4 linked regions of the Homo sapiens genome follow. The protein of the gene in region 1 purifies or fractionates together with the protein of each later gene. This does not show direct contact. Each region holds a gene or a part of one and is shown in the gene's direction. Other genes may lie near its edges. The genes, in order: RPRD1B, RPRD2, POLR2M and GPN1.

The links.
Region 2: the proteins of RPRD1B (region 1) and RPRD2 purify together in Homo sapiens (affinity purification with mass spectrometry; 6 studies listed by BioGRID and IntAct, with this or other methods). This does not show direct contact.
Region 3: the proteins of RPRD1B (region 1) and POLR2M purify together in Homo sapiens (affinity purification with mass spectrometry; 5 studies listed by BioGRID and IntAct, with this or other methods). This does not show direct contact.
Region 4: the proteins of RPRD1B (region 1) and GPN1 purify together in Homo sapiens (affinity purification with mass spectrometry; 4 studies listed by BioGRID and IntAct, with this or other methods). This does not show direct contact.

Annotation. Positions count from the first base shown.
Region 1 is NC_000020.11:38,043,738-38,050,770, forward strand, and holds part of RPRD1B (regulation of nuclear pre-mRNA domain-containing protein 1B), read left to right. Parts: intron 1-4,608; exon of another isoform or gene 4,609-4,610; coding exon 4,611-4,744; exon of another isoform or gene 4,745-4,865; coding exon of another isoform or gene 4,866-4,881; intron 4,882-7,033. UniProt on the Homo sapiens protein: Interacts with phosphorylated C-terminal heptapeptide repeat domain (CTD) of the largest RNA polymerase II subunit POLR2A, and participates in dephosphorylation of the CTD by RPAP2. Transcriptional regulator which enhances expression of CCND1.
Region 2 is NC_000001.11:150,472,126-150,477,078, forward strand, and holds the end of RPRD2 (regulation of nuclear pre-mRNA domain-containing protein 2), read left to right. Parts: coding exon 1-1,209; 3' UTR 1,210-4,441; downstream 4,442-4,953.
Region 3 is NC_000015.10:57,709,696-57,716,728, forward strand, and holds part of POLR2M (protein GRINL1A), read left to right. Parts: intron 1-2,288; coding exon 2,289-2,493; intron 2,494-4,840; coding exon 4,841-4,984; 3' UTR 4,985-7,033. Other genes in the region: GCOM1 (GRINL1A combined protein), read left to right, coding at 2,289-2,493, 4,841-4,984.
Region 4 is NC_000002.12:27,639,023-27,646,055, forward strand, and holds part of GPN1 (GPN-loop GTPase 1), read left to right. Parts: coding exon 1-9; intron 10-1,020; coding exon 1,021-1,103; intron 1,104-2,217; coding exon 2,218-2,257; intron 2,258-3,020; exon of another isoform or gene 3,021-3,147; intron 3,148-3,406; coding exon 3,407-3,497; intron 3,498-3,545; exon of another isoform or gene 3,546-3,870; intron 3,871-7,033. UniProt on the Homo sapiens protein: Small GTPase required for proper nuclear import of RNA polymerase II (RNAPII). May act at an RNAP assembly step prior to nuclear import.

The DNA of each region.
Region 1 (7,033 bases):
GTAAGTGAAAAGAGAAATCAAAGACGATTTCTAGGTTTTTGATGTAAGGAATGACTGATGGTGCCCTTTACTGAAGTGAAGATTGGGGAAAAGATTTGGTGGAGGAAATCACGAGTTTTGTTTTGGCCAGGCCGAGTGTGAGGTGGCTAGTGAATATTCCAAGGAGTGATGCCAAATAGGCAGGTGGATAAAATAGTCTGAAGCTCAGTAGAGACTTGATTTCTGGAGACATAAATTTGAGAGTTACCCACATGATATTTACTTATTGTTGTGGGCCCCAAGACCACTCCCAGGTTTGGTGATTCCCTAGAATGACTCACAGGGCTCATCATGTAGTCATAGTCATGGCAGTGATTCATTACAGCTAAAGGATCCAAAGCAGCAGCAGCAGCAGAGGGTGATGTGCATGCAGTACCCGCAGCAGACTGGAGCGCTCTGGGTATAAGCTTCCGAGTCCTCTCTCAGTGTTATTCCACAAACACGCTTAATTCCTCTAGCACTGAGTTGTGATGTGTATGATGTGTAACCTACCAGGAAAGCTCATTAAAGACTCTGTGCCCAGAGTTTTTATTGGATTGGTCATGTAGACACCCTCTGCCAAAATTCTAAGCTCCCAGAAATAAATCAGGTGTTCATTTTTTTTTTTTTTTTTTTGAGACGGAGTCTCACTCTGTCGCCCAGGCTGGAGTGCAGTGGCTTGGTCTTGGCTCACTGCAAGCTCCGCCTCTCGGGTTCATGCCATTCTCCTGCCTCAGCCTCCCAAGTAGCTGGGACTACAGGCGCCCGCCATGATGCCCGGCTAATTTTTTGTATTTTTTAGTAGAGACGGAGTTTCACCATGTTAGCCAGGATGGTCTTGATCTCCTGACCTTGTGATCTGCCCGCCTTGGCCTCTCAAAGTGCTGGGATTACAGGCGTCAGCCACCGCGCCAGGCTCAGGTGTTCATTAAGAACCGTATTGCTTGCACAAACAATTTAGGCCCAGTAAACCACCCTTACCAGTTAGGAAATGGTAGGGACACTCGGAAATCCCAAGTTCCCAGACCACTTCCCTAAGGGTAGCAGTCTGGCCTTCTGTGTTAACTCCTTTCTGAACCAGCTTTACATGAGGTACTGTTGGAAGTGTAGGGAATACTTAGAATTCCTGCCCTTAGTAGGCCTACCATAGGCCTGCTGTGCATGAGATAAGACAGAGTTGTACAAATTACTGTGGTTGTACTGAAAAAGTGCCATAGAACTGTAGAGGAAGAAAAGGCCCCCAAGGCTGGCTTTGCAGGGACTCAGGTGTCCAGCTGACACGTCAAGCAGCCAATTCTGTTTGTGTGTATCATATACATTTTTCACTCTTAAAGGTCAGTTTTGCTATCTGTATTGAAAAATAAAGTGATTGAATTTGTTATTAATCAGAATTAAAATATGAAGTGTTCAACGTAATATTAAGTTGTGTATGTAATTATTTGCCATCTTCCACTTTATTCATAGATTGTTGGCAAAGATTGTTCAGTCTTTTTTTCCACTTAAAGATTTCTCAGTTTAGATTGGAGTTAGTACAACCTGAAAATATTTCTCTTTCTGTTATAAAACGGCTTTATTACTTTGGTTGTATCTAATTCCAGATGCCAAAGTGACTTCCATTTCGCTGGAGCTACTTCCTTCAAAACCTAATCAGTAGAAAGATTTCTTGAATATTTTATGTATAACTTTGAAACTTATCTAGCAAAACTTTGATTTACCACAATGTTCAAGGAAATATCTGTCCTGGTTAGTTATATTCACTAATTAAACTAGAACCCCCCTTTTGGCCTTTAGTAGTAAAAGCCTTTTGAAAATGTTTTGTGGTTATAACAGGTTTGAGCATCATTTTCCACTGTGCCTGAAACTGTACACAAAACCAGTCTTAGCCTGAATGGAGTCCCAAGTATCTCCAGGAATGGTGGGTGGTGGGTGTGTGTTGTGATACCCACCTACTTTTAAACTAAGTCCTTGATAAGAATTTATTCTCGAGACTGGTTTCTCTTTCTTTTAAGCGAACAGAGAATCTGCAGCAAACAGATTTTATGCTAAAAGTACCAGCTAGTTCATTAACTAAGTTCTGATTAGTTGCAATTTGGTTTTACTAATTATAATGACTTTATTTTTCTAAGCTATACATTTGCTCACATTAGGGACCTCCCATTGCCTGCAGGCCACGTGCTTTAATATGGCATTCAGGGCTCGCTGTAATTGAATTCCACCCTCCTTCCAGATTCTTCTGCAGTTTCCGCACATTCCCCCATATACTTCAGCTACTTGAATTACTCCTTTCCCTTTGCCTTGTTCAATTTTGGCTATTCCATTTGAAGGAGAAGAGATAGCATGAACAAAGGCACATGCACATGAGAGAACAAATTCTGAGTAGCAAATACATACGGGTGGGTGTTGCTGGAATGCAAAGTTCCAGGTAGGGTAGGGAAAGGAGACTAAAAACAGGTCTGAGGGATTGCTGAGTCGAGCCCTAGAGGTCAGGACCCAGGCCTTCTTATTCTTTGTAAACCTTCATTGGTCGAGCTGAGGAGTGCTTAGTTGATTTCTGCCATGACCTTGATACAGTAAGATGATTGTTGAAAGTTAAGTAACTGTATTACTTACCGAAACCCATATACATTTTTCTGGAAAAGATTACAATTTGACAGATATTCATTGTGCTTGTTCAAGGGCATATAGCAATGGGAGAAAATGACAAATCTGCACCCCTGTGGAAATTACATTCAAATGGAAAGCGTGTAAACAAAAAGTAAACTATTGAATATACAGCATACCAGAAAAGTTGTATGGAGAAAAATTGAGTAGGGGCAGGGAGTGTTATTTTCAACGTGGAGATTAGGGAATGACACACTGAAGGTGGTGTAACTAAACATACCCCTGAAGGAGGAGAGGAATTGAGCTGTGTGGCCACATGGGGAATGTGGTTCCAGGCAAAGCAAACTTTTGAAGTGCTAAGGCTCTGAGGCAGTGCTAGGGTAGCTGTTGTTGAGGCAGGAGGTTGGAGGACGGGGGTGGGGAAGAGTGGGTAGGAGATGAGGCCAGGGAAATAACAGCTGGGTTGGGAAAGGCCTTGGAGTCTTTATAAGGACTTTTATTCTGAGGGATACTGGGAAGAAATGTTGGCAATTTTGAACAAAGGAGTGACGTGGTCTGCCTTAGTACAGCAGCTAAAATTGTATTTTGAAAACTCGAGAACAGGTTGTAGGAGGACAAGGGTGGAAGCGAGGAGACCAGTAATGAGGCTACTGTAGTAATGCAGGCGAGAGATGATAGTGCCTTGGGCCAGATTGATAGCAGAGGAAAAGATGAGAAATAACTCATTTCCGGATATATTTTGAAGGTGGAGTAAAAGTGTTTTATCACAAATACCAAGTAATTGGGTCATATTTTTAAGCTTTATAAAATTAGCAGTAGAAATGTTTTTCCTTTTTTTTCCCGAACCCTCACTTCTGACTTTAAAAAGTTTAACAAAAAAAGAATTAATTTTTATGTACTCTGATTGAGTCCTTTAGTCAGTGAAATTTACCACTAATAATTCATAAGTGAGACATTCTGACTGGGCTAGGCTGAAACCTAAGTTCTCCTTGAGTTTATGAAAGCGTTGTCATGGTCGGGTGTGAATAGAGTTCCCATCTCAGTTGAATTGGCATGGTTTCTCCTTGAAGTTCCTATTAAAAGCCATTTAACTTAGATACTAAGATGTCGAGGTATCCCTTCTTGTTTAAAGTCATTCAGTATAAGATCGTTGCCATTTAAACCCCCTCACAAAACAGAAGATTTCATGGTAACAGTGCATGGTGACTGAATTCACTTTGCTTTCAGAAAGTCTAACCCAATCTTCTGCTTGCTGTCTGAGATTTTATTGTAGGCAATTGGTTCTCAGTGAGTGCTAGTTATAGTCCTTTATATCCTGTTTCAGGAGTTAACATGTCAGGGGAAAACATTTTCTAACTTCTAATTCATATCCTTTGATATAAATTATGAAGGACTGCATTATTAAGTGTGTTCTAAGATTATCAGATACCTTTGTGTGAACCTGGACTATGGACTTAGCCCAGAATTAAAATAATTATGCAGTGGTTAGAACTGGAATGATTCTTGACATATACATGTATGTGATTGTGTTTATACATGTAGAGGTGTTGGTGTGTTAGAATTGATGAGTTGCAGTGAATTTATTTCCTGTTTTAAACATCTGGTTTTTTAAAATCATTTTTCTATCTTTAAGAGTTCTGATCCACTTTTAATTTCCAGCAGAATGTCTGGCATTTTAATTAACGTCTTCTTAAAAAGCAAGCTATCACAACTGATAAGATGGAGTTTTGATAATTTTCTGTCTGTAAAAATTGGCCATTGACTTTTGGTCCTATTTGATTTCAATTATGGCATGATCCCTCCCACTGCACGAAGAATGTAGTTTGTGGTCAAGTTTTGGGTATCCAGGTATTACAATATGTACCTTATTTGGTTTTAAATGTGTAAATCATTTAGTCAGTTGTTGATTTCTTTTTTTTTTAAGTAGGTCTGTCCTAATTAAAAGCAAAAAATCTTAAGCTTATATATATCTTTTCATCTTTTCTGGGCAGAGAGGCAGATGAAGGCTGTAAAAAACCTTTAGAAAGATTGCTGAACATCTGGCAAGAACGAAGTGTGTATGGCGGCGAGTTCATACAGCAGCTGAAGCTGTCTATGGAGGACTCCAAGAGCCCTCCCCCCAAAGGTAGAAACATCACCACATGTTTACAGCTCTTGGTCTTTGCCTACTTTCGAATCAAATATGAAAAGCTGCAGTGGGGTTTGCTGTGAACCACCAGCGATTTTATGATTCTTCAGAGAGACAGATGATCATGAATGATGGTGAGAATTTATGTAGTGCTCACAGCGTGTAAGCCTGGTTCTAGTATTCATGCTATTCATCCTCTCACACCCTGACTTTTGCTCTCTGTTCTCCTTGGCTTGCTTCTGTCTTTCAGAGACTTTCCTTGCACAAGGAAAGGAACAACAAAGTTGTTCAGAGTTGTGGTGAACTAGGAAGTAGCCTGGACTAAGATTTTGTCCTTGCTCTGCCATTAACTACAATAGGACCTTGGATAAGTTTCTTAGCTTTTTAAGAACTTGATTTAATTAAATGTAGATGTGCTTTTGAAACATATCCTTAGGATTGTCAGCATGGTGTCTGTCTAAAGTTGATTGTTTGTTTGTTTTGGAGACAGAGTCTCACCCTGTCATCCAGGCTGGAGTGCAGTGGCGTGATCTCGGCTCACTGCAACCTCCGCCTCCTGGGTTCGAGCCATTCTCCTGCCCCAGCCTCCTGAGTAGCTGAGATTCAGGCACCTGCCACAACACCCGGCTAATTTTTGTATTTTTAGAAGAGACGGGGTTTCACCATGTTTGCCAGGCTGGTCTCAAACTCCTGACCTCAAGTGATCTGCCCGCCTCGGCCTCCCAAAGTGCTGGATTACAGGTGTGAGTCACTGCGCCCAGCTTAAAACTGATTTTGATCTTTACTGAACCCAGGATATCTTTAGGAAGTGCATCTGTGTGTGAATTTTGCAAAGCCCTTAATAAGAGCTTATATTATTTTTTCTTTTTTCTTTCTTTTTTTCTTTTTTTTTTTTTTTTTTTTTGAGACAGAGTCTTGCTTTGTTACCTGGGCTGGAGTGCGGTGGTATGATCTCAGCTCACTGCAACCTCCGCCTCCCGGGTTCAAGCAGTTCTTTGCCTCAGCCTCCCGAGTAGCTGGAATTACAGGCACCTGCCACCATGCCCAGCTAATTTTTGTATTTTTGGTAGAGACAGGGTTTCACCATCTTGGCCAGGCTGGTCTTGAACTCCTGACCTCGTGATCCACCCGCCTCAGCCTCCCAAAGTGCTGATATTATAGGCGTGAGCCACCTCACCTGGCCTATTTTTTTCTTTAAAGAGTAAGATCAAATGTTGTTTAGTTACTTGGCTTCTGGTTAGTTGTGGTTTAATTCTAGTTGGCATGACATGTTTCTTAGCTACAGATCTGATCTGCCTGCATACATGTTTCCTGGAGGATCGAGTCCAAGTACTGATAGTATTGAAGACCCTTTCTATCTGAACTAGCCTGTTTTTCCAGATTCTTCTCCTGCCACTTCCTCACTTACACTGTATTCTTTGGCCAAACTGAATTGCCGACAGTTTACCCTCTGGATGCTCTGTTGGCACTGCTTCCTTTCCATCTGCTGTTACCTCTACTTGATGTCCTTCTACCGCTTTCACTGTGTGATGAACTCATTCTCCAAGAATGCAACTCTCATTCTGACATCTTCCCTGGCTTGTCTGGGCCCATGTGGTCATTCCCTCCTTGTTCTCTGGTACTTTATACATGCATCTGCTATAGAACCTAGTCATGATTAGCATGTGTGACAGTATCCTTCACTGAGTAACCCTTTTGTGTACCCTTCATGATCCTTTCCAGGTCTGGAATTATTTGCATTTTGCAGTGGGTAACTTTCCTGTGAAACCAAAGGTTAGAGGCTTTCTGTGAATGACATAAGTGCTTTCAGACTGCAGGTCATTGTTGTTTTACTTGGTGTTGCTAGAAGATAATTTTAGGATCACTCAGGTGATTGGTAGCTTCTGAAAAGCAAGATGTTTCCTGCTTTGGATTCTGGTGTTTTTATTGTGTCCTTTGGAGGTCTTCAGTACAGCTTTGGGGAATTACTCAGCATTCTTTACTCTGCCTTAGAGTTCATTGGTAAACAGTGCTGGTTTTTAAGAACACCTTTGGGCAAGTAGGAGAGCCTTGAAAGAGGATGTTTGAAGCTAATGTTGAATTTCAATTTAATGTACATTTGCTGGACACATACTTTGAATAAACAGATATGCTAGATGCTATAGGAAAGAGGGAGAAAAGAGTGAGGAATAGGTTTGCACTCTGGGAATGTGTGGAATTTGTGGCAGTGATAGTATTGGGAATAGCTTCAGTGGGTTTCTGATTTTTTTTTGAAAGTCTAGACAGACATTAACAATAATAGAGGCA
Region 2 (4,953 bases), on another chromosome or scaffold:
CACTACCGCATAGAAACCCGCGTCTCCTCCTCCTGCTTAGACTTGCCTGATAGCACAGAAGAAAAGGGGGCCCCTATAGAAACCTTGGGTTATCACAGTGCATCCAATAGGAGGATGTCAGGGGAGCCGATCCAGACCGTAGAGTCCATCCGAGTTCCTGGGAAGGGAAATAGAGGACATGGGCGTGAGGCTTCAAGGGTGGGTTGGTTTGATCTGAGCACATCAGGTAGCTCTTTTGACAATGGCCCTTCAAGTGCCTCTGAGTTGGCATCCCTTGGGGGTGGGGGCAGCGGAGGCCTCACTGGCTTTAAAACAGCACCATACAAGGAACGGGCACCTCAATTTCAGGAGAGTGTCGGCAGCTTTCGTTCCAACAGTTTCAACTCAACATTTGAGCATCATCTTCCCCCATCCCCCTTGGAACATGGGACACCCTTCCAGAGAGAGCCAGTGGGGCCATCATCTGCCCCACCTGTCCCTCCTAAGGATCATGGTGGTATCTTCTCTCGAGATGCACCCACTCATCTACCCTCTGTGGATCTTTCGAACCCCTTCACAAAGGAGGCAGCCCTGGCCCATGCTGCCCCACCCCCTCCTCCTGGAGAGCACAGTGGAATTCCTTTCCCTACCCCACCTCCTCCTCCCCCTCCTGGGGAACATAGCAGCAGTGGTGGGAGTGGTGTCCCCTTTTCTACTCCACCCCCTCCTCCACCCCCTGTTGACCACTCTGGAGTTGTACCCTTCCCAGCCCCACCACTGGCAGAGCACGGAGTGGCAGGGGCTGTGGCAGTATTTCCCAAGGACCATAGTTCCCTCCTTCAAGGGACCCTGGCTGAGCATTTTGGGGTACTCCCAGGACCCAGGGACCACGGGGGCCCCACCCAACGGGACCTCAACGGCCCTGGCCTTAGCCGTGTACGAGAGAGCCTCACCCTACCCTCCCATTCTCTGGAACACCTGGGCCCACCCCATGGAGGAGGAGGTGGGGGAGGCAGCAACAGCAGCAGTGGCCCCCCCTTGGGTCCCTCACACAGAGACACCATCAGCCGGAGTGGTATAATCTTACGGAGTCCCCGGCCAGACTTTCGGCCTAGGGAACCTTTTCTCAGCAGAGACCCATTTCACAGTTTAAAGAGACCCAGGCCACCTTTTGCTAGGGGCCCTCCGTTCTTTGCACCAAAACGCCCATTCTTCCCTCCCAGGTACTGATGGAAACCAAGGGAAAGGCATTTTGAACAGTCTAGAGAACATTGGAAGTAGGAGTTTGGTTTATTGTTGTTGTTTTTATTTGTTTTCTCTTTCTCGATTTTTTTTTTATTATAACAAAGGGCCTCTCTTCCAAAGTAAGAAATCACATACGCTTACGTTTTACTATTCAATTCAATCCTCCCTCCCATTGCACTTATCTACCTTCCCCAAGTTGTTTGTATTAAAAAAAAAAAAAAAAAAAAAAAGTAAAGAAACACAACCAAAGCCATTTCATTTGGCTGGGGGGTTGGGGAGTGGGGAGGAAAACAATCTTTATTTTACCCCATCTATTGAAGAGTATTATTACATTTGAAATAAAACTTCCATCAGTACAGATAACCACATGTGCAATGTTGGGATGTTATTTTGGGCTTGGCTTATCGAGTAGTCAATGGAAGGATTCCCGTCCCCTCTCTCGGCAGCTTAGTAACTGCTGTAGCCAGCTCGGCTCCCTTCCCTGTGTATCTGTGTCCTGCTAACAGCCAAGAGATGTTGCAAGGGAGGAAATGTGAGAGACCTTGAACCTGTCAGGTTTATTTGTTTTGTTTTTAAAGGCATGTTGAAGTTTAGTTCTTTACCCTTCTCCTAAAATCTTTTTTTAATCAGCCTCAAGGTTAAAATAAGGAGTGACTACAGTATGTAAAATAAGGAAAGGAAGCATTAATGGTGTGATGTGACCTGCCTGTTTTTTTGTAAACAAGAGAATAGGAAATGTTTTCAAGGTAGTTTCACATGTCTTGCACCAAGCTCATGCCTCTTGCTTTTCCTTTTTGACTTTATCTCCCTCAGTTTTTCTTCTGCTGTGGCCAGAAAGACAGTCACTACAGTTGACTATTGATACAAAGGTGCAACAGAAATATTATCCCTGCATTTTTAAATATAAGAAGTAGACATTAATTTTACCATGGTGCCTCCCTAATGTAAGTGATATTTATTGGTGGTTTTCAACAAAGGTTAACTATTAAAGAAAGAAATATTTGTCTTTATCTTCCTTTTCCCCTTGCCTCAGTCGTGTTATTCACCCCTATTCTTGATATTTTAAAGGAGGAGATTCAGTAGCATTTTCCTTTATATTATACACATGTGTCTATCCCATTTCAAGGCTCAAGTCTTACCCCCACCTCTCGCTCCCAATAGGAAATAAAGACCATTTCTGCCCTTAGTTGTTTTACATGCAAGATAAGTGCTTTCCTTCTCCCTGGACTGAAAGACTTGTTTGTATTTCTACATCTAGTACTTGGGAAATAGACAATCACTGTACTTTGAGTGTTTATATCTTTATATCTAGGGACACTGAAAAGTAAATGTTGCTTTACTACAATTTTTTTTTAATTTAGTGTCTTACCCCAAGGCATACTCAACTGATAATCTCCAGCTAGATGAGTAAAACAGTATGTGTTTAGTTTTCCAGAGAATTCTGGCAAGTTTCATATTTTCTTCCAAGTTAGTATAGAACTAACTATAGGAAGTATGGGGTTGCTTTTTCCTCCAGTAGAATATTAAAGATGGGGGAGGGTGGGCAATGTAGTGACAGAAAATGATTCTCTCAGAATGAACTTTTCAGAGAAAGAGCAGCATAAACCAGGTGCACATCATGATTTGGGAGTTTTTGCGTAATTTATTCTGTTATTTATTTGGGCTCGCCATGTGTTCTGGGGTTAGGATGCTGCAGGTCATTCATCTTCTTAATGCCTGTCTGGTCTTAAGCCAACTGTTCTTTCTTTCCTCGACCCTCTCTGCCCTGTAGCTCTCCCCACAAAAATGCATGATACCATGACCTTACGTGTGGGATGGGGTATGTAGTGTAGCAAAGAAAAGAAAGTATAGTTATATTGAGTCCTAAGACATTTGTTAGGGAAAAGCATAAGAGAAAATGGGGTGGGAGGTGGGGAAATGATATTTGACTTTCAAAATTGAAATAGGTTTTTTTTTTGCAGAAATTAAATGGGATGTTTTTCATTCTAGAATAAAAGAATGTGAATTCTCTTTGCTGCTCTTGTTTAAGCTAAAAGTAGTGTTTACTTGATAAGGCTCTCTGACCATTTAATTTTTATCAGAAAATGTGGGGATGTCAGGAAAGTGGCTTCCTGAACGTTGGGGCGGGATAATTGTCCTCAAAAGTATGATGGTTAATACATGAAAGGAAGACTTTGTTGGACAGTTTCGAAGGTGGGCTTTTAAGGAGTTGGGTTTTTGTGGGGTACTTTTTTGTTTTTTAAGCCACAAAATCCTCAATATGTTTGTTTTAGGATGGAAGTGAGGATTTGTATGAGACTGTCAGCTATTAATTTTAAGGAAATCTTAAAATTTACATTTACATCAGTAAATGAAGATGACAGTGTGTATATATGTGATAAATAGTGAAACAGAAAAGACAGTTCTGGTATTCATAACGTGAAAGAAAGGGGTTTTATTCTTTCTGTGTCTGTGATTTAAAACTCCGTGACCATGCTCTGACTTTTGTATTTCAACCTGAGTTTAAACAAATAAACAAGATATTTTTTAAAGAAAGCATAACATAGTGTGTCTTAGCAAGGACATGATTCATATGGAAGCAGAATGTGAGAAGTTGTAAGGTCCTTGGTACTCACTGTAAAATCACAGACAGAGAATTGGTAGGGGTTGTGAATACACTAGTACCACTTAAAGTTCAGTGATACAGTTCAGAAATAGGGTCCTTAAGTATTTTGAAAGAGTTTACTCTTCAGTCAGCTTAGATGAGAGCTCTCTCCCTGCTCCCCTCTACCCTCTCAAAAGTTGAGAGTAAATAGAATTTGGTTTGATTCCAGGGAGGGGAAAATAAGCAGAGAATAGGACTTTTATACTTTCCAATACCAGGAATAAAATGTTTGTGATATATATGGGTCCAGCAAACCTATCGAGATAATGTGAATACGATAAACTTCCTAATGGCAGGATATTCACTCTCAATCCTGAAGTTACCGGTTCCTGCAGAATTGAGCTTCAGCTGTTACTGTTTTGAAGCCGCTGTAAATTACTGCTTTCCCCAGTTCCCCCACTATTTTTTTTAAGTGGGCGGGGGCGCCTGTTAAGATCTAAAATAGATATGTTGGATTGATATTCTCACGTGTTCGGTGTGGAAAACAAAACAAGTACATGCTTTAGAAGCAACAACAATGAAATCCTTTTGAAATGTGTGTTAATATCGTTTAATAAAATAACTAGTTTGAAAGGTTTGACATTTTTCTTTGAGACGGGCTTGGACCAGGGGCCCCTGGCTTCCTAGTGAGTGCAAATAGGAGGGAACTTCTCAGGAGCTGAAACCGCTGCTTTGTGGAGCAGGCCTGTGGTTGGAAAACCTAAGTTTTCTCTAGCAAAGACCCAGCCTGACTGTCCAGGGCCGAAGGTGAAACCAACTAGAGAATGCAGAAGGAAAAGCCTGGATATATCTCAGAAGATATGGTTGTATTGGCTTTTGGTCCAAGGGTATGGGGGTGGGAGTAGTGGTGTGTGCGCCCACACATTTCTCAGGCACACACAGAGATACCACAGACCACCCACTTCGTAACCACTTGCACTTTACTCTCTTCCAGACGTTCCTTTTTTTTTTAATCCCTTTGTCCCCATTATTTTGTTTTCCAGTTTAATAAAGTATGGTTTCCTTTGTTGTGTGGTTGACTTTTCCCCTCCTGTTGATCTTTTCCAGATGTCCCCTTTGACTTCTGCACTTAATGTCACTGAAGG
Region 3 (7,033 bases), on another chromosome or scaffold:
GACAAGGTCTTTTAAAGCACATGGGGGAGTGTTAAATTTTAGGATGCTTAGCCAGTATTTCATAATAAACACAGAGTTGGAGAGAATTTATTATGACTTCTTTTTTTCAGAACCATTTTTTAGTGTACAGCTTTGATTAGTGTACTATCAAAGTGTACTCTCTTTGATTAGTCTGTGAACTAAGGGTAAAGCAATTGCAGGAGCTGATGGGCTTTCCAGCAGAAATTATTTGCATGCTCACTGTATGTAAGCAAGCAGCAGGTGTTGTGGGGACACAATTAAGTCAAGATTCTTAAAACTCCTTTGCCTTTTTTGATGTTAAATCTCAAGTTTAAAAACATGGCTGTAATGTATACATGTGTAATGTAATACAATACCATGTTCTTCAAGGAGTTTAAGAGCTACATGAGGACCCAAGGTTTACACACTTGGAAAAGAGTTAAGCTACATAATAATAACAGTTTCAGGGGGAAGGAAGCTGAGAAGAGGTTTGAAAAACTGTGAAAATAGATTCAGGCAGGATAGGCAAAAACTCTGCTTATCAGTTCCTTGCCATAAATTTGTTTCTGAAATTTCAGGAAAAGTAAAATCTTTTTGAAAATAATTGCTATTTACTTGCAGCAAATGTAACATTCAACTCAGGTAACTGGTACCTTCTTCCTATATTGTATTTACAAGTATGTAACATCAAAGTTAAATCACTACTACCTTTCTTTGAAAAACAGAAAACCTCTAGTGAAAAGTATCTAAAACATGCTTCTTTTTTGTTAGACTTTAATTCTACCCCAGCATTCATTTTAACCTCAAAACATTTTATTTCTGCTGTATAGAAAATCAGGATTATACTACATTAACGTGATCAAGTACTCTCTTGTGTACAGTGGGGTATCTTTCTTCACTTCCAGGATGACATTTTAGAAAACTAGAACCATCATCTAGTCAATAAATAAAACAAAGAATACATTAATCCCAGTTCTGTATTATGGTCATTTAGCTGGGAGTGGGAGAGAGGTAAGGGAATAGTGAAGAGGGCTACCAAGAATTCAGGAAGTTTAAGAGACAGGGAGCCTCCTGTATAAGTTAGAGGAGAACAGGAAAGGCAGGGCTTTGAGGAGTCCTTAGGCCATAGACAGGTAGGGATTGAGAGGGTTCCGTGTGAGAGGTGGCTTGGAGGTTGGAAGGTGGGGTCAGGTAGTGTCCTTTGGGTCCTTTCTGCTCTTCCTTCTGCATACTCTTCTGGCTTCATGTATCACCTGGATGCTGGAGGCTGACCCCTGTGCACCTCTATCCCAGATCTTCCCAGAACTTTAGGTTTGCATAGCCAATTAACCATGAAACTTGATCACTTGGGTGTTCCCAGGTACCTCAGCTTAATGATGTACAAAGTGGAACTGCAGTTTCTTTCCAAGGTGATTTCCATATTCCCTAATAGTGCCACCACCTTCTCGGTTTTCTTCCCCTAAGGTATCTTCGATTTTTCTCATCTCCATATCTGCTAGCCATGAAGACCTACTTATTTCTTTGATCTTCATCTCTATAATTGTTCTTCATCTTCTGTCGAAGTGAAGACTCTCATCTCTCTCGGGCTGTAATTGTGGCCCCTTCTACCTCTAGTCTTAACTACCAGTCTATCTCCACTGCTGCCAGAGTGAAATTTGTAAGATGGAAATCCGAACTTGTTACGGAGAACTCTTCATTGCAGTCTGGGCCTAGGCTACTTCCCAGCCCTCTTTCTCGCTGTCTTTTCTGTGTAGCCAGAAAAGCTGAGTCTGTCTACCTTCTGTACTTTCTCTCACTCCCCTTGCTGGGATGCACTTCTCTCCTTATTTACATGGGTAAGCAGTTATTATTCCAAGACTGTTCAAAGCTTTTTTGAAACTTTTCTTAGCCTCCCTGTCTCCCACTAGAACTGGCCATTTCCTTATGTTCCAATGTATCTTGTTGAGATATCTATCACAGTATCTCTGGTATTGTATTGCACTGAAACTTTACATGTGTATTTCTTTCTACTGGGCAATAAGCCCTTTTGCAAATGTTCTTTGAATAAATGAAAAAAAAAAAAAAAACTCCAGATGAAATACAAGGTTTGAATAAGGAAGGAAAAGGCAAAGAGCCTGTATGCACACAAACACACCCCTATTTGTTAGAGCAATGAATACTGGTAAATTACTTACTGTTACCTTTGGAGGAGAATTAATTGCTAAGGTAAAGGCCATTTGTGTGAATGTTTTAAATGTGTCTACAAATAAAATAATCTGATTGTATAACACAAGTTTTCCTTTCATCAGGTTACCTTTTCGACAAAATGATTCATCTAGTCATTGCCAGAAGAGTGGGTCTCCTATTTCCTCAGAAGAGCGGCGGCGCAGGGATAAGCAGCATCTTGATGACATCACAGCAGCTCGGCTTCTACCACTTCACCATATGCCCACGCAGCTGCTCTCCATAGAAGAATCCTTGGCACTTCAGAAACAGCAGAAACAGAATTATGAGGTATTTAGAGTATTTTTTTTCTTGTCTGTTTGTTGGGTGCTGCTTACATAAGCTAGAATTTACTCCAGGTTCAAGGAGGAAGGAATGGAATAGAGGGGATTAGGTGCTTCCATGAGCTCAGATCTATGCCACTAGTTTTCAGAGAGTCACAAAGTTGCTAGAACTGCAGGAAGTAGCTAGAGATGATCACAGCTACCTTCAACATTAAAGTGGTGATTTGCCTGGAGATGTGGGGAGACTTGTAGAATTTCATGTCTTAAAGCTCATTTACCTGCCTGTTCCTGTTAGGATAGTAGTAGCATCGCATCTCTCCCTTTCACCTTGTAAAACTCATGTGACAGCTTCTCAGTGGCGGACTCAAACCCAGACCCCTTGTTAGAGAATGAGGAGAATGTAGTTCCCAGGCTTCCATCTTCTGCAGTACAGGGGAGGGCATAGAAGGAGTGGGAGGATAATGTTGTGTAGCCAGCAGACAGTGAGACACTGCTTTAGAGCATAATCTGCAGGCCCATGTGAAGAGAGAAATATCTCCTGCTTTTGGCAGCTTAATCAATTTTGCATAGCACTTTGTTTCCATGTGTTTTGCATTGAACTTCAAACATGTATGTTGAGAGTTTGTATACAGAATAATGGGATGGGAGAAAATAAGTGTGAAGGACCATAGGGGAACAGAAAAGTTTAGAAGTATTTAGTAATAATTTTAGCCTCCAGGAGAACAGTATCCTGTCTCACTTCCTAGGTATTGATTAGCTAGATTTTAGTCAGGTACTAGTGCACCAACTAGTATAACACCAGACTGTTCAGGAGTTCGAGACCAGCGTGGGCAACATAGCTAGACTCCATCTTTACCAAAAAATTAGCCGGGCATTGGGGCATGCAACTGTGGTTCCAGCTACCTGTGGGGCTGAGGTAGGAGGATTGCTTGAGCTCAGGAGGTCGAGGCTGCAGTGAGCCGCAGTCACACCACTGCACTCTGTATAGCCTGGGTGACAGAGTGAGACCCTGTCTCAAAAAAAAAAACAACAAAACAGGCTGTTAATCTGCTTTGGCTTTTCATAAAAGCCTTGGCATGGATTGGCATTATCAAGGTGCTCTTTTTGAAAAAAACCATTTTTCTTTCAGTGCATTAAAATGACTGTCTAGTTATGGCTGTAGCATTGAGGAAGTGTTTACTGTCTCTGAGCTCTTAAATGCCTGTCCTAAGATATTTTTAGGTTGAATTAAACCCTTCATCTTTAAATTGTTTTTTTTTAGCAGAGAAGTTGTAGTGGTAATAGCTCCCACTTTTACTGACCCATATTCATGGCTTGAAGAGGAGGACATCAAGAAGTTCAAGAAAGCATGAGAAAAGGGAAGAACTGAATTAGGAATGACATTGCCACCTACCATCAGTTGGTGGTAAAGTCCTTGGGAGTTTTTAAGTACATTGCCAGTGTCTGAAATTTACTTGGACTTTTTATTGGATACTAGTTGCTGTAGGACTTTATTTGGAGAGGAATAGTCAGCTTTTTAGTATTAATTTCTTGATTTTCATTTTGCCATTGAAATGTAATTCCCAAGTCTGGAAGTCATGATTGTAATTAGGGAAGAAGGTCCTGTCAGTTGTAGAAATCTAGACAGCATTAGTCCTTCTTTTTTTTTTTTTTTTTTTTTTTTTTTTTTTTTTTTTTTGAGACGGAGTCTTGTTCTGTCACCCAGGCTGGAGTTCAGTGGCGCAGTCTCAGCTCACTGCAAGCTCCGCCTCCCGGGTTCACGCCATTCTTGTTCATTCTTGTGAACCCGGGAACACGCCGGGTTCACAGGCACCCGCCACCACGCCCGGCTAATTTTTTGTATATTTAGTAGAGACGGGGATTCATCGTGTTAGCCAGGATGGTCTCGATCTCCTGACCTCGTGATCCGCCTGCCTCAGCTTCCCAAAGTGCTGGGATTACAGGCGTGAGCCACTGCACCGGGCCCCAGCATTAGTCATTTTTGACATTTGATAGGTCAAATTGTTATGTGAGTGTGTATACATGTGCATGTGCCCCCATATTTAACGCATCTGTATTTATAAGTATTGTAGTGCTAAGCTCATTACTCAGTTTCTTATATAGAGGAGTGTATTTCAGTGCAATGTTGTATATTAATGGAGGTCAGTAACTTCAACTGTAGCAGGCTGGTGGCTGTCAGAAGCATTACCCAGTTGTGTCTGATAGGGCACAGCCATCAGGCTTGTATTGCCCAAGGGAGCACTCAGTGAGGTGTCAGTGTCCCTCTTATTGCTGATTCTAGGTAACTTCCCATTGAAAAATTGTAAGGAAGAGATGTGAACGTGTAACTTTGTGCTTTGCTCTTTGTTTTAAAGGAGATGCAAGCAAAGCTCGCAGCGCAAAAATTAGCTGAAAGACTGAATATTAAAATGCGGAGTTATAATCCAGAAGGGGAGTCTTCAGGGAGATACCGAGAAGTAAGGGATGAAGATGACGATTGGTCCTCTGATGAATTCTGAAGATAATCTCCTAAATCACTGACGTTGAGATGTCATCATCTTACATCAGACTTTCTAACTAGTATCAAGATCAGTGTCAGATATTGTTGAGGGAAGTAATTTTATAAAGTTACACAAAGGTAGTTATAAAAAAAGCCCAGTTTGTCTTTCAGAAGGTGACTTTCATGTGCTTGAAAAGTTTAATATTTGAATATTGTGTTTAACCACATGGTATTAAAATTTTGCAATATATTGTGTATTGGTCTGATATTTTAGTATATAGTAGAACATACTTTTTTTTTCTTTAAGCCAAATGAAAAGAGGTAACTTTGCTTTTTTCCTTTTTCTTACCTATCAAATAGCATTTATTACATGTCTTTCAGTGAAATACTTAGTTGTTCCAGGCACCTAAAATCAATTAGGAAGACATAGTTCCCTTCTTTTTTGGGTAATGAAGGGAGCAGTCTAAAGAATTGTATGCATGTTTGCATGGGGTTATTGAGACATTGGATGTGAAATACCTAGGAAGACATGTATGGAGAATGCTTAACAAATGCTCTTCTCCTTTTTCTGTCTTCCCTTAGGAAGAACGTTATCTCTCTTCTGATTAGGAAGGACTTCCCTTTTGAGTAGATGCTGGAAAGTGGAGGTTTTTTTTGTTGGTTTGTTTGTTTGGTTTTGTGTTTTTTTTTGAGATGGGGTCTTGCTCTGTCGCCCAGGCTGGAGTGCAGTGGCAGGATCTCGGCTCACTGCAATCTAGGTGGAGGTCTTTTTAAATAACCTCATGTTACTTCAGGCAAATCTGGTACAGGAGAAGCCCAAGCTAACTGAGCTGGGTGAAGGCTTGTGCATCACCTGGCTTGAGTTCCTTGCTGTCACAGATGATAGGTTCATGTACACAACATTAATGTTTGATAAGGAAAGCATTTTTTTTTTGTTAAAATTGAATTGTCAGTACTTTACTTTTTTCCCCCCAAATAGGTATATATAGACTGCAGAAGCTTCAGTCCCATATATAAACGTTCATGTCATTTTAGAGGATTATATGGTTGTCTCCAGAGAAATTAACTTACATTATCAAAAAATTCTTTGTCTAATATATTGGAGTCTTTAAAAGTGTTGAAGAATAAAATATTAATTAGAACAACTTCAAATGCTAAGGTGATGTTTTACCGGGACTTAATTAAATACAACTTTTTCCTTTCGAAAAAGACTGTTCACATTTGCTTCCAGGTGTAATTATTGCTTTCATTCCTTACCCCCCTCAAGCAAATGTGAAAAGTATACTGACCTAAGATTCTCATTAGTTTTAGTTCTTAAAACGAATAGTAAATGATTTCACAGCGTAAAATTTGATGTTATTTCTGGAAGCTGGATGATATGGAAGAGTTCATGTGCCTGGACACACAGTTCCCTGTAATCCTGCCATCTAGGGAGATAAACTCTGTTAACATTTTGATGTTGTGTTTTTGCTTATTTTTCTATGCATAGTTATGCATTTATATTCTCAAAAATGAAATCATAATGTACATTGCTTTGTAGTCTGCTCTATATATTGTCAATATGTTCCCATATTAAATATTTTGCTTTTTAGACAGCTGTAGGATATTTTATTTCATGGGTATACCATAACTTTAAGATTTATTTCCTATTCAGCAATTTGATTATGTATTATAATGTAATCTGTAAATAGTGATATGATTAACATCTTAATCACATCCATAGAAAATGACTTATTTCCAGAAGATACCGCTCTAAAAATGAAATTGTTAGGTGAAAGTGTTTTTGAGAATTTTTATATATATTACTCACTGCAGAGATCATGTTCATTTACATTCCCATTAGCAATATATCCAATGCTCAGAATTGAAAATTACTACTTAAAATCTTTGCAAATTGAATAATTACAGAAAAGGGCTACATTTAAAATTTGTATTTGTTTTTCTTACTTAGTGAAGGTTGTGTTTTTTTTCATATTCATTGGCCATGCTATATTCATTCTTTTGAGAATTGCTCATTCATATTTTTTCTGTTGCTTGCTTGGAGAATTTGCTCTTTTTTTGGCATATA
Region 4 (7,033 bases), on another chromosome or scaffold:
TCACTCAGGGTAAATTTTCTCTCCTGCTCACACTGACAGCCTCTCCAGATAATCTGTTAACCCATAGGATTGGCTTTGAACCTGGCTGAGAAAGGAAGCTTATTACCTACTGAAAAGTAACTTTTAAAGCATTGCTTATTAAAAATTGTGGAGTGTACAAGAAGAATAAGATAGGGACCCCAGCTTCAGAGTTTATAGTCTATTTGGGAGAGAAGGCTACACACAGAATTAAAACATATGATATATTGTAGTAAGTACCTTAAGAAAGATTGGAAGTTGGGCCTGATGATTGTGAGGCGGCAGATCAAAATGACAGATTTTGGAGGATGTAGCATTAGAGGTATGCTTTGAAGAAGGGTAAGATTTATGTAAGCAAAGGCAGAATGGGTTAATTGCCCAAGGAAAGACATAGACAAAGCAGAAAGTGATTTGGTTTGGTTTGTTAGGGAATAGATAATAAGTCCTGTTAATTGTTCAGTCCTAATTATCTTTTTTTTTTCTTTTTTCCCTTTGGAGAGAGGATCTTGCTTTGTTTTACCCAGGCCAGAGTGTAGTGACAGGATCACAGCTCACTGCAGCCTTGACCTCGTGGTCTCAAGGGATCCTCCTGCCTCAGCTTACCAAGCAGCTAAGACTATAGGCGTGTGCGGTATACCATACCCAGCTAATTTTTTATATTTTGTAGAGACTGGGGTCTCGCTATGTTCCCCAGGCCAGTCTTGAATGCTTGGCCTCAAGTGCACCTCCTGCCTCAGCCTCCCAAAGTACTGGTAGTATAGGCATGTGCCACTGCACTCAGGCCATATCTTTCTTTTTCAATTTTTTATTTTCCATGGACTTATTTCTGTGACTTTTGACTGGGTGTGCTGTTTTGTTCTTTTTTAGCCTGGCTTTTTGCCAAAGACTTCTCAAAATATAAACCACTCTTACTAAGATTTTATGACATTTAAACAAGTTAATGTACTTCATTAAAAAATATACAATGGTTTCTTTAGTGGCATTTATGATGCTTTTTGGCAGGTGGTGGGTGTCTCTGCTGTTCTGGGTACTGGATTAGATGAACTCTTTGTGCAAGTTACCAGTGCTGCCGAAGAATATGAAAGGTGAGGATAAAGGAAAATTCTATTGATGACATTCTTAATAACCTACAATTCTGATATGAAAGCAGTTTTTCCAGGAAAAGCATTACATTTTCATGATGGATGTATTATATTTGGTTTGCATATGTGTATTGAATCAGACCACACTTAGGGGTGACAAGTTCCCTTTAAATTTTGTTTTTTTTAAATAGAAGTATAAATCTTCATTGTATTGAGTGATTAAGAGCAGGGATCATCAGACTTTTCTGTAAAGAGCTAAACAGTAGGTAGCTCAGGCTTTGTGGGTCATATAGTCTCTGTTGCAACTGCTCACGTCTGCCATTGTAGGACAAAAGCGTCCTCAGACAATTTGTAAATTAATGGGCGTGGCTAGTGTTACAGAAAAACATTTATGAAAACAGGCAGTGGGCTGGATTTGGCACTAAGGTTGTTGTGAAGATTGAGAAAACGTATACAGCACTTATCACAATTGCTGACATATAGTAAGCACATTTTATAATAAATGTTATAACTATTGTCATTGTTAATACTGGAATTCAAGTAAAGAAAAGTGGAGTCAGAGCCCTGTGCACTTTCCTTAGGCCTGTGGCATGATAGCCGGCTTATTAGTGTCATGTGTCTTTGGCTTCATATTTTGCAAGATCCTAACAACCATATTTTGGTTTTCAGACATGTTATTTTGATTTTGATTCATTAGACACAAGGGTGTTATCAAAACCTTAGGATAGACTCTTTTCTGTATCCTTTCACTGTTGTTGTTCAAGTAAAGCACATAATTGTATGTTGCACGTCCTGAGCTCAACAGGCTTATCTTTTACTTATCTCACCCTTTTATCTCAAATGAATGGTGAGTTCATCAGTCATGTTCTCACCAATATTAATCTTTCCAGCCCAGCAGTCAGGATTGTGTCTCCTGGTTCCAAGGTGGGAGCGGGCACCTTGGCTTTTAATTCCATTGGGTAGACTCTGTCAGTGACTAAGATTTGTTACATCTGATGTTGAATGAAGTCAGATGTTTTATTATTGTCAGTCTTAGGAAAATAGAGATAAGGGGATGTGGAGAGTCAGTAGGATAGAGGATTAAGCAAAGGAATTTAGAAAGTGTTTCTCTTTACAGGGAGTATCGTCCTGAATATGAACGTCTGAAAAAATCACTGGTAAGAAGGGAGGCTGTTTGTATATTTTAAAAGGGCCATTAAAAAAACCCAGCTCAATCTTGATGACATAAGTGCTTTTGTTTTGGTTATTAATGTATCTTTTATTTAATTAAAAAAGTTTTTTTTGTAGCTTTATTGAGGTACAAGTGGCTAATGAAATTTCAGTGTATCTTCTAAATACTTGTTAATTTAAATTTGTAAATTTGTATGTATGTTGTCTGGGTGCGGAAAGTCTCCTTAATGTTTCTTCCCTTTCAGAGGTCAATTTAAAGCTAGTTGTAGAATTTTGTATAAGAGTGTAGTGGTGCTTCACAACTCCTTTTCTTGTTGTTGAGAAAGGGTCTCACTCTGTCACCCATGCCAGAGTGCAGTGGCACGATCGCGGCTCACTGCAGCCTCGACCTTTTGGGCTTAAGCGATCCTCCCATCTCAGCCACCCGAGTAGCTAGGACAACATGTATGTACCACATGCCTGGCTAATTTTATTTTGTAAATTTTTTGTATAGACAAGGTCTCACCGTGTTGCCCAGGCTGGTCTCAAATTCCTGAGCTCCTGCAGTCCTCCCTGCTGGGCCTCCTGTAGTGCTAGGATTACAGGCAGGTGCCACCATGCCCAGCCTTCTCTTATCCCAAATGATCGAGTGTCCTGCTTCCTTAGGCTCATTGGATCCTTTGTCTCTGAGCCTTCCTGCTATGTCTACTTCAGGTTTTTGTGTTTTTTTTCCCCCATATAATAAAGTTTATTGTATCTTTTGTTTTTTCATTTTGTAGGCTGGGGATGAATAAAGAGTAATGCTTTCTATGTAGGCATTTTGCCTAGCCAGTTTAAATGTTCCAGTTCAATTAACAGAGCAGGGGATCCACCCTGGACTGAACTCAACACTTTAGAATTGAGGGTTCTTTTGAAACCTTTTTGTGTTCCGTTTCTGAACCCTCTAAATCAGTCTGCAGAGCCCTCCAGTCTAAACTTCTGCAGTAACCCAGGCCCACGCTACTTAGTGTTTCTGTCCCTATACCAGACGTCCCTTATCTGCATCAGTTTTTATGTAGCCTCTAGTATTTGTATAATTCTTCATCTCCACTGAGAAGTCTGGCATCTAATTTGGGACTCCTTTTTGAATATGATGACATTTTTCTCTGTATATACAGGCCAACGCAGAGAGCCAACAGCAGAGAGAACAACTGGAACGCCTTCGAAAAGATATGGGTTCTGTAGCCTTGGATGCAGGGACTGCCAAAGGTATTGGAGGGTTTCTTGGTGTTAGGAACTAAAAAAAGGTTACACTTCTTTCTTTTATTTATTTATTTATTTTTGAGACGGAGTTTCACTCTTGTTGCCCAGGCTGGAGTCTCGGCTCACCACAACCTCCACCTCCCAGGTTCAAGCAGTTCTCCTGCCTCAGCCTTCCTGAGTAGCTGGGATTACAGGCATGTGCCACCACACCCGGCTAATTTTGTATTTTTAGTAGAGATGGGGTTTTTTCCATGTTGGTCAGGCTGGTCTCGAACTCCTGACCTCAGATGATCCACCCACCTGGGCCTCCCAAAATGCTGGGATTACAGGCATGAGCCACTGTGCCTGGCCGGTTACACTTATTTCTATCAGCAGGATTCTGTTTATATATGAGAGAGAGAAAGAGAAAAAGATAAAGGAAATGTGGTTTTATATATATATATATACACACACACACACACACACACACACACACACACACATACATATGCATACATATATATTAAAAAATAAAGGATTTGGAAAGGCAAATTTGAAATTATATACAGCTCTACCACTTTGGGTTCCTCTTTCAGGAAGTTTTTGCTTTACTTTGGCAATATACTTGATGTGTGCTGTGGTGGTTTTTTTTGTTTGTTTCTAACACTTTTAACCCTCCTCAATTTTTTTTATAATTAAAAAAAATTTTTTTTTTTTTACAGTTTGACCTTAATTTCAGATTTACAGAAGTTACATGAATAATACAAATAATTGCCATAATTATTCTATCAGATTCCCAAAATGTTAACATTCTACCATGTTTACTTTATTCTTTATCTATATATGACTTTATATGTTATATAAATATATATTTTTCCTGAATCATTTGAGTAAGTTACAGATATAATACTCTTTTACCTTGAATAATTCAGTGTCTTTTTCCTAAAAACAAGGATATAATTTTATATAACCTCAGTGCAGTTATCAGAAATCAGGAAATTAACATTGACATAATACTATAATATTAGCTAACATATAGATCTTATTCAGATGTAGCCATTTCCCCATGATAGCAGGAGAAAATCTGGATGTGCATTGTATTTAATTCTCACATGCCTTATACTCCTTTAGAATCTGGAACAGTGCCTTAGTCTGACTTTGTATTTCATGACTGACATTTTTTAAGCATGTAGGATAGTTATTTTATAGAGCATCCTTCAGTTTAGGTTTGTCTCATGTTTCCTCATGATTTGATTCAGGTGACTAATTTTTGAATTGTGTTTTTTCAAGGAATCACATTGGGAGGCACGTGATGTTGATTTGTCCCATTACTGGTGATGTTAACTTTGAGTATTTTTATAAAGTGGTGTATGCTACGTTTTTCATAAAGAATTACTATTTTTAGGCCGGGCGCAGTGGCTCACGCCTGTAATCCCAGCATTTTGGGAGGCCGAGGCGGGTGGATCACTTGAGGTCAGGAATTCGAGACCAGCCTGGCCAACATGGTGAAACCCCATCTCTCCTAAAAATACAAAAAATTAGCTGGGCGTGGTCGTGCATGTCTGTAATTCCAGCTACTCGCTGAGGCTGGAGAGTCTCTTGAACCCGGGAGGCAGAAGTTGCAGTGAGCAAAGATCGCGCCACTGCACTCCAGCCTGGGTGACAGAGTGAGACTCCCTCCATCTTAAAAACAACAACAACAAAAATTACTATTTTTAAATATGGCTGTTTTTCTGTTTGTAATAAGAATTTTGTGGGGTGATGCTTTGAGACTATAAATATCCTTTTAGTTTTCTAATGTTCACCCATTAGTTTTAATATCCATTGATATAATAGGAATATCAATTTTTCTGTGATTATATGTTGCAAATGTTTAATATTTTCTCCCTATCAGTTATCCTTTGACTTTGTTCACGGTGTTATTTTGCCATGCAAAAGTTCTTATTTTGTTTTGATGTAGTCAAATTGATCTATCTTTTATTGCATCTGGGATTTTAAGTCACAGTTAGGAAGCCTCTATATATACCTATGTTAAAGAGGAATTCACCTATTTTTTTTTATAGATTTGTCTGGTTTTATTTTCTAAATTGAGATCCCCGATTAATTTAGAGTTTATTCCTGGCTATAGTATAAGGTATATAAGTCGGTGTTATTTTTTTCATAAATAGTTGTATCTGTATGATTTATTTAAAAGTCTGCCTTTGCCTTAGTGAGTTTTTTTTTTGGTAGTGTTTTTTTTTTTTTTTTTTTTACAGATGAGGTCTGAGGCTGGTCTGGACCTCCTGGGCTCAAGCGATTTTTCCATCTCAGCCTGCCAACTAGTTTGGATAGGTGTATGCCACTGCACCTGGCTTGTAACAGCGATTTGAGATGCTACGTGTATAATGTTCCAGACCAGCCTCAGACCTCATCTCTAAATGTAGTAAAGTTCCATGCATACTTGAGTATACTTCTATATTATTTCACTGGACTGTTTATTTATTTATTTTTTTTGAGATAGTTTCTCACTCTGTCACCCAGGCTGGAGTGCAGTGGCGCAATCATAGCTCCCTGCAGCCTCGAACTACTGGGCTCAAGCATTCCCCCTGTCTCAGCCTCCAGAGTAGCTAGATCTACAGGTGTGTGCCACCACGTCTGGCTAGTTTTAAGGAAATTTTTAATAGAGACGAGGTCTCACCATGTTGCCCAGGCTGGTCTTGAACTCTTGGCCTCAGGCAGTCCTCCTGTCTTGGCCTCCCAAGGTGTTGGGATCATAGGCATAAGCCACCATCCCCAGCCCATTTTTTTTTTCTTTTAACTTGCTTTGGTGAGCAAGGACTCCTTACTTTTATGCCTGTACCATGTTGTTTTAATTATGTAATTATGTTTCAATATCTGCTAGATCAGATTCTCCTCCTAATTTTTATTTGGCTGTCCTTACATGTTCTTCCATATGAACTGAGTATCAACTTTATCTAGTTCCTTAAAAAAGCTTTTTGGTATTTTAGTTGGGATTACATTATATTCATAATTAATTTAGGGAGAAGTGACATCTCTATGATGTTCAGTCTTGCTACCCAAGACCACAGAGTGTCTTTGTATTTGTCAGGTCTACTTGTGTCTTTCAGGAGTGTTTCCAGTTTTCCATATATAGGTTTTTCTTATTTCTTTTTAAAATGTTTTTGTTATTTTAGCCAACCTTTTTGACCAAGAGTTTTTGCCTGTTTCTTTTTAATTTTTTTTTTTTAAAACAAATCATCTTTATGTATTTGTTTTGAGACAGGGTCTTGCTCTGTCACCCCAACTGGAGTGCAGTGGTGTGATCTTGGCTCACTGCAGCCTCTGCCTCCTGGGTTCAAGCTATTCTCCTGCCTCAGCCTCCCAAGTAGCTGGAACTAGAGGTGCCTGCCACCATGCCGGGCTAAATTTTGTATTTTTAGTGGAGATGAGGTTTTGCCGTGTTGCCCAGGCTGGTCTCGAACTCCTGGGCTCAAGTGATCTGCCCACCTCAGCCACCCAAAGTACTGGGATTACAGGTGTGAACCACTGTACCCAGCTTGAAATTTATGTATGTATGTATTTAT